Homo sapiens: one gene and its partner. The protein of the gene in region 1 purifies or fractionates together with the protein of each later gene. This does not show direct contact. Each region holds a gene or a part of one and is shown on either strand. Other genes may lie near its edges. The genes, in order: VPS4A and RHEB.

What was found.
Region 2: the proteins of VPS4A (region 1) and RHEB purify together in Homo sapiens (affinity purification with mass spectrometry, with the first as the bait; one large-scale study listed by BioGRID). This does not show direct contact.

What each region holds. Positions count from the first base shown.
Region 1 is NC_000016.10:69,317,650-69,321,460, reverse strand, and holds part of VPS4A (vacuolar protein sorting-associated protein 4A), read right to left. Parts: intron 2,812-3,811; coding exon 2,750-2,811; intron 2,639-2,749; coding exon 2,519-2,638; intron 2,075-2,518; coding exon 1,918-2,074; intron 1,321-1,917; coding exon 1,172-1,320; intron 774-1,171; coding exon 692-773; intron 411-691; coding exon 191-410; intron 1-190. UniProt on the Homo sapiens protein: Involved in late steps of the endosomal multivesicular bodies (MVB) pathway. Recognizes membrane-associated ESCRT-III assemblies and catalyzes their disassembly, possibly in combination with membrane fission.
Region 2 is NC_000007.14:151,492,347-151,496,157, forward strand, and holds part of RHEB (GTP-binding protein Rheb), read right to left. Parts: intron 1-3,811. UniProt on the Homo sapiens protein: Small GTPase that acts as an allosteric activator of the canonical mTORC1 complex, an evolutionarily conserved central nutrient sensor that stimulates anabolic reactions and macromolecule biosynthesis to promote cellular biomass generation and growth.

The DNA of each region.
Region 1 (3,811 bases):
CACTCCAGAAGAGCTGCAGGGAGGGGACAGTGGGTGCAGCCCCCATGGCACTGGCCCTCGGCTCTCCAGGAGGCCTCAGAGACTGTGTCACCTGAGCAGCCGGGGAGCAGGACCAGGAGCTGGGAAAAAAAAAACCGAACATCCCGCTCTTACTATGAGATTTTTCTCAGCAGTGGCCGCGGGCACTCACCTTTTTGAAGTGTGTGGCCGACTGCACCTTCCTCACGGGCTGCATGAGAGAGTCCCGCACGATGATGCTGATGTCCGCGCCCGAGTAGCCTTCCGTCTTCCGGGCCAGCTCGTGGATGTTTGCATCCGTGAGGTTGTGGGGAGTGCTCCCGAGATGCAACCGGAACATCTGGGCGCGGGCAGCTTCCTCCGGCAAGGGGATATAAATTCGTTTTTCAAACCTAGAGAGCCCAGCACACGGCAGGAGTTGACAGCGGATGATGGAATGGTATTCACGGAAGGGGAGGCACGAAGATTTGAGTGAAACGGACGCATTTCATGGGCCAGTGATGCTGGCGGCACATCCTCAACAAGCCAGCCTCACAAAGGGCTCTGCTTGGCAGGCAGACGGGAAGACTCCAGGGAAAAGGGGCCAGGCTGCACCCGGGCTGCCAGCAGCAGGCGGACCGTGACCATGGTGGGAGGAAGCCTCCAGCCCTGGCTTCTCCTGGGGAAGACTCACCTCCTCCTGATGGCCGAATCCAACACCCATGGGATGTTTGTGGCTCCAAGAACCAGAGTCCCATCATTGTTATTCCCCACCCCTGTGGAGAAAGGGAGACAAAGACTCAGACTCTGGACACCTGCACGGGTCAGTTGAAACCTGGGGACAGACCCCGGGGGCTTTGTGTGTCAGCAATTGAAGCCATCCCTGTGCCACCCACCACTGGCAGGGTCCCAAGTGAGATTAAACCACATCTTGGTCTGGCTGTGCCAGGTGAGACCTATGGCACTGCCTGCCATGGGAGGGGTGGAGTGGCCCGTGAGGCAGAGGCCTCAGGCACCTCTTGGGAATTGAAGTCCACCCGTGCCCTGAGGGGCTGGAGCTGGGGAGTGCCTCTCCGAGGCTGAGAACAACCAAATCCAGCCGCAGCTCAGAATAAAGCCCAGGGTTGGCTTCAGGTGCAACAAGAACCAAGGGGGCCCTGGGCCCGGCACACACCCTGCATCTGGACCAAGAACTCCGTTTTGATCCTCCGGGCGGCCTCACTCTCATTTTCATTTCGGGACCCGCAGAGGGAATCCACCTCATCGATGAAGATGATGGAGGGCTTGTGCTGCCTGGCCAGCTCAAACAGGTTCTTGACCAGCCTGTGAAGGTGAGAAAGGGGGTGAGGACAAGACGTTCACGTCCGTGCCCGCCTGGGCTCCCGGCACTTCCCTCTTCTCACCCTTCCCACAGGGAGGCGCAGGCCACGGTCATGCCGGAATTGCGGAAAACGTGGTGGTGAGGAGCCCTCGGGCCACACTGCACCAAGAGGAGGAGCACACCTTGGTGTCAGCCCCAAACGCAGAGCCTCAATCCCAGGAGCCCCATGCGCTAGCTCTGCACTTACAACACGTCAGTCCCCTTCTTCCGAGCCCGTCTCATCACACGCAAAACAGGAGTCAGTGTGGGGAACCATGTCCCCCACACACTGCCCCAACAGGGACCGCAACCCAGACCCCAAAAATATCCTCACTTCCTTTCCCTTCTCTTGTGGAGCACTTCACCTCTCCCAGGTCCCTTCCACCTTCACTTGTCTTTGTTGGGACTGTGTCCCAGCCGATAAGCTAGCGACACACTGCTCTTGGGTACCCTCCCTGAAAACCAAACCACTCCTCTGAGAGGTGACTCCACAGGGTGGGCCGCTGGGTCACTAGCAGTGCCGGGGCTGCTGGCAGAGCATGGCCTGGTGGCCGACTTACTTTTCACTCTCCCCCAGCCACTTGGACATCAGATCTGAGGAGGACACAGAGAAGAAGGTGGAGTTGTTGGCCTCTGTTGCCACGGCTTTGGCCAGGTAGGATTTCCCTGTGCCAGGGGGTCCGAACAGCAGAATCCCCCGCCAGGGGGTGCGCTTGCCTGCAACAGAGAACCACAGAAGTTAGGCCTCCTGACTGGGGAAAGGAATAGGAAAAGCAGAGGGTCTCGAGTCCCATACATACAGTAAAACAGGGCATTCTGTGAAACAACGGACTCTACTGGCAAACAAGTGATGGGAGCTACATTCCCTGCTGTGCCCTGTGCTATGACCCCATGACCTTGCACAGTGCCCCTGCTATGACCCCATGACCTTGCACAGTGACACCGGCTGGCACTGCTTCCTGATCCTGCCCCCACCCTGTGACGTGATCGTCATCTCATAGCTCCAGCCACAGCAGTGTTGTGGACACCAGCGAGCAGCCAGGCCTGGCCCTCTGCAGGCCCCGGGGGCTGAGTCGCCACTGACTCCCGGGTGCCTCGGAGTGCCAGCCCTGCGGAAGCCTGGAATTTTTACATTGGGGTTTGAAATGGCTCAACTCTCACCTGTGAACAAGTGTGGGAATTTGATTGGCAAAATGACAGCTTCTTTGAGGGCCTCCTTGGCCCCCTCCAGCCCGGCCACGTCGTTCCACCGTATGTTGGGCTTCTCCATCACGACGGCACCTGCGAGAGGGAGGCCGGCCCGGGCCCGGGCCCGGCCAAGGGGCATGAGCCAACCCAGCAGCGGACCCACTCTCATCCCCTGCCGCTGCCACAGGGCCGCGAGCCACTTACCCATCAGCTGTTCTTGCAGTTTCTTTTTCTCCGGATTATCCCCTTCACTGTCACTGTCACTGCTGGGAAGGGAGACGGAAAGTCACAAGCTGGCCCTTCAGCCTGGAGCACAGAGGTGCTCCCAGCAAGTCCAGGCTCCGCTGCCTGCACACTGGTTAAGGAACGAAGCCTTCCTGGCTTAACAGTGCCGTGTGACTCAAGCAAGTACTTCAGGGACATTTGGGCCAATGCTCTCAGCAGCTCACTTCAGGACCCCCCCAGCAAACACTCCTATAACCCGCCCTGTTTCTTCGCGGAGCAGATGGGAATCCGGGTCGGCCCTCTCCTGAAGGCCGTAAGGGAAATGTGCTTCAGCTGGACTTAAAGAGCAGCCCAGGCCAGGTGCGGTGACTCACACCTCATACTCTGGGAGGCCACCTGCAGTGGCTCTCACAGCCCAGGCTGGGTGCGGTGGCTCACCCCTGTAATCCCAGCACTCTGGGAGGCTGAGGCGGGAGGATCGCTTGAGCCCAGGAGTTTGAGACCAGCCTGGGAAACAGCGAGATCTTGTCTCTACAAAAAACACAAAATTAGCCAAGCATGGTGGCACGCACCTATGGTGCCAGCTACTTGGGAGGCAGAGGTTGCAGTTAACCAAGATCGCACCACTGCACTCCAGCCTGGGAGACAGTGAAGCCCTGTCTGGGGGAAAAAAAAAAAAAAAAGCCAGTCAAACAATGCAGCTGCCAGAAGCTTCTTTTTTTTTTTTTTTTTTTTTTGAGATGGTGCCCAGGTTGGAGTGCGATGGCACAATCTCCATCTCAGCTCACTGCAATCTCCGCCTCCCGGGTTCAAGTAATTCTCTGAATTCTCTGGCGTCAGCCTCCCGAGTAGCTGGGATTACAGGCACATGCCACAATGCCTGGCTAATTTTTTTTTTAAGACAGAGTCGCACTCAGTCGCCCAGGCTGGAGTGTAGTGGCTCGATCTCGGCTCACTGCAAGCTCCGCCTCCCGGGTTCACGCCATTCTCCTGCCTCAGCCTCCTGAGTAGCTGGGACTACAGGTGCCCGCCACCACGCCC
Region 2 (3,811 bases), on another chromosome or scaffold:
GCTCATGCTTGTAATTCCAGCACTTTGGGAGGCTGAAGCGGGTGGATCACCTGAGGTCTGGAGTTCGAGACCAGCCTGGCCAACATGGTTGGTCCTGTCTCTACTAAAAATACAAAAAAAGTTACCCAAGCGTGGTGATGGGCACCTGCGATCCCAGCTACTCAGGAGGCTGAGGCAGGAGGATAGTTTGAACCCAGGAGGCGGAGGTTGCAGTGAGCTGAGATGGCGCCACTGCACTCCACTCTGGGCAACAGAGTGAGACTCTGTCTTATAAAAAAAAAAAAAGAAAAAAAGTAGGGGTTGCTGAGAAGGAAAGGCCACAAGTTGGTAGACCTATTTACTCCTTATCCGCAGCCCAATACAGTTCAAAATGTCTCTAGAATTACTAATACCTGAAATTATTCTCTACAAAGCAACCTACATGAGCATTTGAAAATTAAACGCTACTTCTCTGCTTCCAATCCTCATTGCAATTAGAATAAATTCTCAACATTTTTTTTTTTTTTTTTTGAGACGGAGTCTTGCTGTGTCACCCAGGCTGGAGTGCAGTGGTGCAATCTTGGCTCACTGCAACCTCTGCCTCCCGGGTTGAGGCGATTCTCCTGCCTCAGCCCTCCTGAGTAGCTGGGATTACAGGCACGCGCCACCACACCTGACTAATTTTTTTTGTATTTTTAGTAGAGACAGGGTTTCACCACATTGGTCAGGCTGGTCTCGAACTCCTGACCTCATGATCCACCCGCCTCGGCCTCCCAAAGTGCTGGGATGACAGGCGTGAGCCACCGCGCCTGCCCTAAATTCCCAGCTTCTAACCGTGGCCCACAAACACCAGGCCATCCCTGCTCTGGTTACCACTCTGACCTCATCCGCCAACAGCCCCCGACAACCCATCCTGAGGCTCCAGTCACATCCCTTCTGCTCCTGGAGTTCCTGCCTGCCTTGGCCCCTTTACTCTAGCAACCCCCACTGCCCCCATCTCTGAATATATGACTCATCTTTGTCATTCTGATCTGAGCTCAAATGTTAGTTTCACAGAGAAACCTTCAAGACCACCCTAAGGTAGTACCCATTCCTTAAAAGTCATTCTCATAGCTACTGTTTTATTAAGTTATTTGGAATGATATTCATTTAGTGAACACTCCACTGAAGCCAGCACAGGGCCAGCCGACACATTGTAAACATTGAGATTTCTGAACAAATGAACGAAATTAAAGCGTAGATCTCCAAAGGTCACTCTTAGCCATTTAGATACTACAAAAGATCTCAATTTTATACAAATGAAATACAAAACACAGTTCAACAGAAATTAAGAAACAATTCAATTAGTATTTATTGGTACCTAATCACAGGCTTGCCTGTGATATAGGAATACAATAGTTTAAGAATTCCACAAATTTAAAATGAATTGTGTTGAAAAGAAACCATGTTATATATGCTAGCCTGTAAAGGAGAATTTAACTCAAAATACAGCAGAACTACTTCAGGTAACAAAAATAGCAAGAAGAAAACTCCTCTCATGTTATTGAAACTGAAAAATTAGAAGGAGTAAAAAAAAAACAAACTGTTATTTACACTGAATGCTACTGCTTAAAGAAATGAAATTTAATTAGAAAGAAAGAAGGGAACAAACTTCTTAAGGGCTTTTGCAAGGTACTTCTAAGGACTCCAGTGGGCTTTTTATACCCTTATGTGGGTAGGATAAGGGTTTGTGGGGTTTTTGTTTTGCTTACAAATGGAAAGAAAGGAAAGAAAGCGATCATTTTCTCCCTAAAGATATGGGCAAGAGTTACAAAGAAAAAAGGAAATAATATAATTAAAAAGATTTTTGCAACATTTTGTGTAGTAGAACTGGACTAAAAATAGTGAAAGAGGGGCTAAGTATGATACATGGGATAAGCTCCCCAAGCACTGGGCAACCAGGAACCCCTGGATCAGACAGTCCTCTGAACTGGCACTGGCCAAGTCTCGACAACCTGACTTGCGGGAGTGAAGGGACGGGGGAAAAGAGCCTCAGGAGTTTCCCGTGAAATTCAGGAAGCCACATTTGAACAGAAAAGAAAGTTACACACATTAAACAAGACAGCATGAGATCAAGTGCAAAAACGGAGTGAGAGAAGAGCTCCTTATTTGTATCACAATGGGCATACACTATTTGACAGGCTAAATTAACATTTCACTTGAAAACATAAGTAATCATTCCGGTAACAGACAATGTAGTCTAACCAAAATCACATCGCAGGTTGACAGCCAACTGTTGTTTTCATGAATAGTAAACTGGGATACCAGAATTTAAAACGTATTCCTCCAGGGTGGAAACTGGATTTTCAATCAGACTGGCCCTAGGAGAAAGGTACTGTTCATTAGCAGAAGTGGCACTGGAGAAAAACTACGTTTCCCTTGGGTCTCTCCTCCCTGGGGCTCTCCCGCCAAGGTGAGGTCATTAATTATTTAACTAATCCAGAAGGGATAGGAAGGCTATATTTGCTAACATGCTGTTTTTTGCCATTTCCATTAAAAAGTGCTATTATTAACTAGTGTTGAAATCTTGACAAGTCAGCATTAAATGCTAATGAATCTTCATAAATAAACCCCACCGCTCATTTTCAAGTGTTCTCAGTTCCAGTTGTAATTTCTGGCTTTAAGGAGTGTCTTCTGGAGACGTAGTTCAGATCTTTTGGTTAGGTTTTTCTAGTTTGTTTGCAACCACAAAAAGGCATTGGTGATCTCTACTGTGATCACCTTTAACCTTTTTCTCTCAATAACTTCATATATTTACTTTGGCTTTTGTCCTTAGCAAATTCAGGTCTGGAAACACTGTTACTCGCTTGCTGAAGATAATCTCACACTCCAGATCAACTCTTTGGAAAAATGTTACATGAAAACTACACAGGAGTGATCCCAAATAAATGGAAAAGTAGCCCATACTCAGATGTGTGTTTATCCTCAAACACAAATCACTCATTTAATGACATAAATTACTATAAATGGTTTAAAAGGCAGTATCTCAATTCCTACAATTAACTGTCAAATACTCTTCCTCCAAACCAAAACCCACCTTAACTTTTAAAAATAAAAATTATTTTAAAAAATTCTTCTGAGCTTTTATCAGGGAACAGCATTGTATTATTTTTTCCAATGATAAAATGGCACAGTGAGTTTCTCAGCTGGTATTTTCACTACAGAAGGTGTACTTTCAGGGGTGTTGACTCAATCTTATACCTCATGATTACTGCAAAATAGGCACTGTTTACAGAATTATTTTAAGTTTTCAGATTAATATTGACTTTGTTATCATGCTTATTCTCCTAAAAAATAACTTATTAGCCCGGTGTGGTGGCTCATGCCTGTAATCCCAGCACTCTGGGAGGCTGAGGCCGGTGGATTGCTTGACCCCAGGAGTTTGAGACCAGCCTGGACAACGTGATAAAACCCTATCTCTACAAAAAAAATATAAAAATTAGCTGAGTGTGGTGATGTGTGCATATAGTCTCAGTTACTCAAGAAGCTGATGTAGGAGGATCGCTTGAGCCGAAGGGTTGAGGCTGCAGTGTGCGTTGAGCGTGCCACTGCACTCCAGCCACGGTCTGTCCCCCCTCCCACCGACTCCCTACAAGCCCAGCATTTTCCCAGTTTATACATTGCTTGTTCATTGGGATATGATGGGGAAGACCAGATTTTCAATCTATTAACTAGTCTATCAAGGCATTCTGCAGAAGGGGGAGTCCATTAGAACCGATGTAATGCATCTAGGACACAACCCATTCCAGGGCTGCTTTCACCACCTCAAATTCACAACATAACTTTAAGGGGC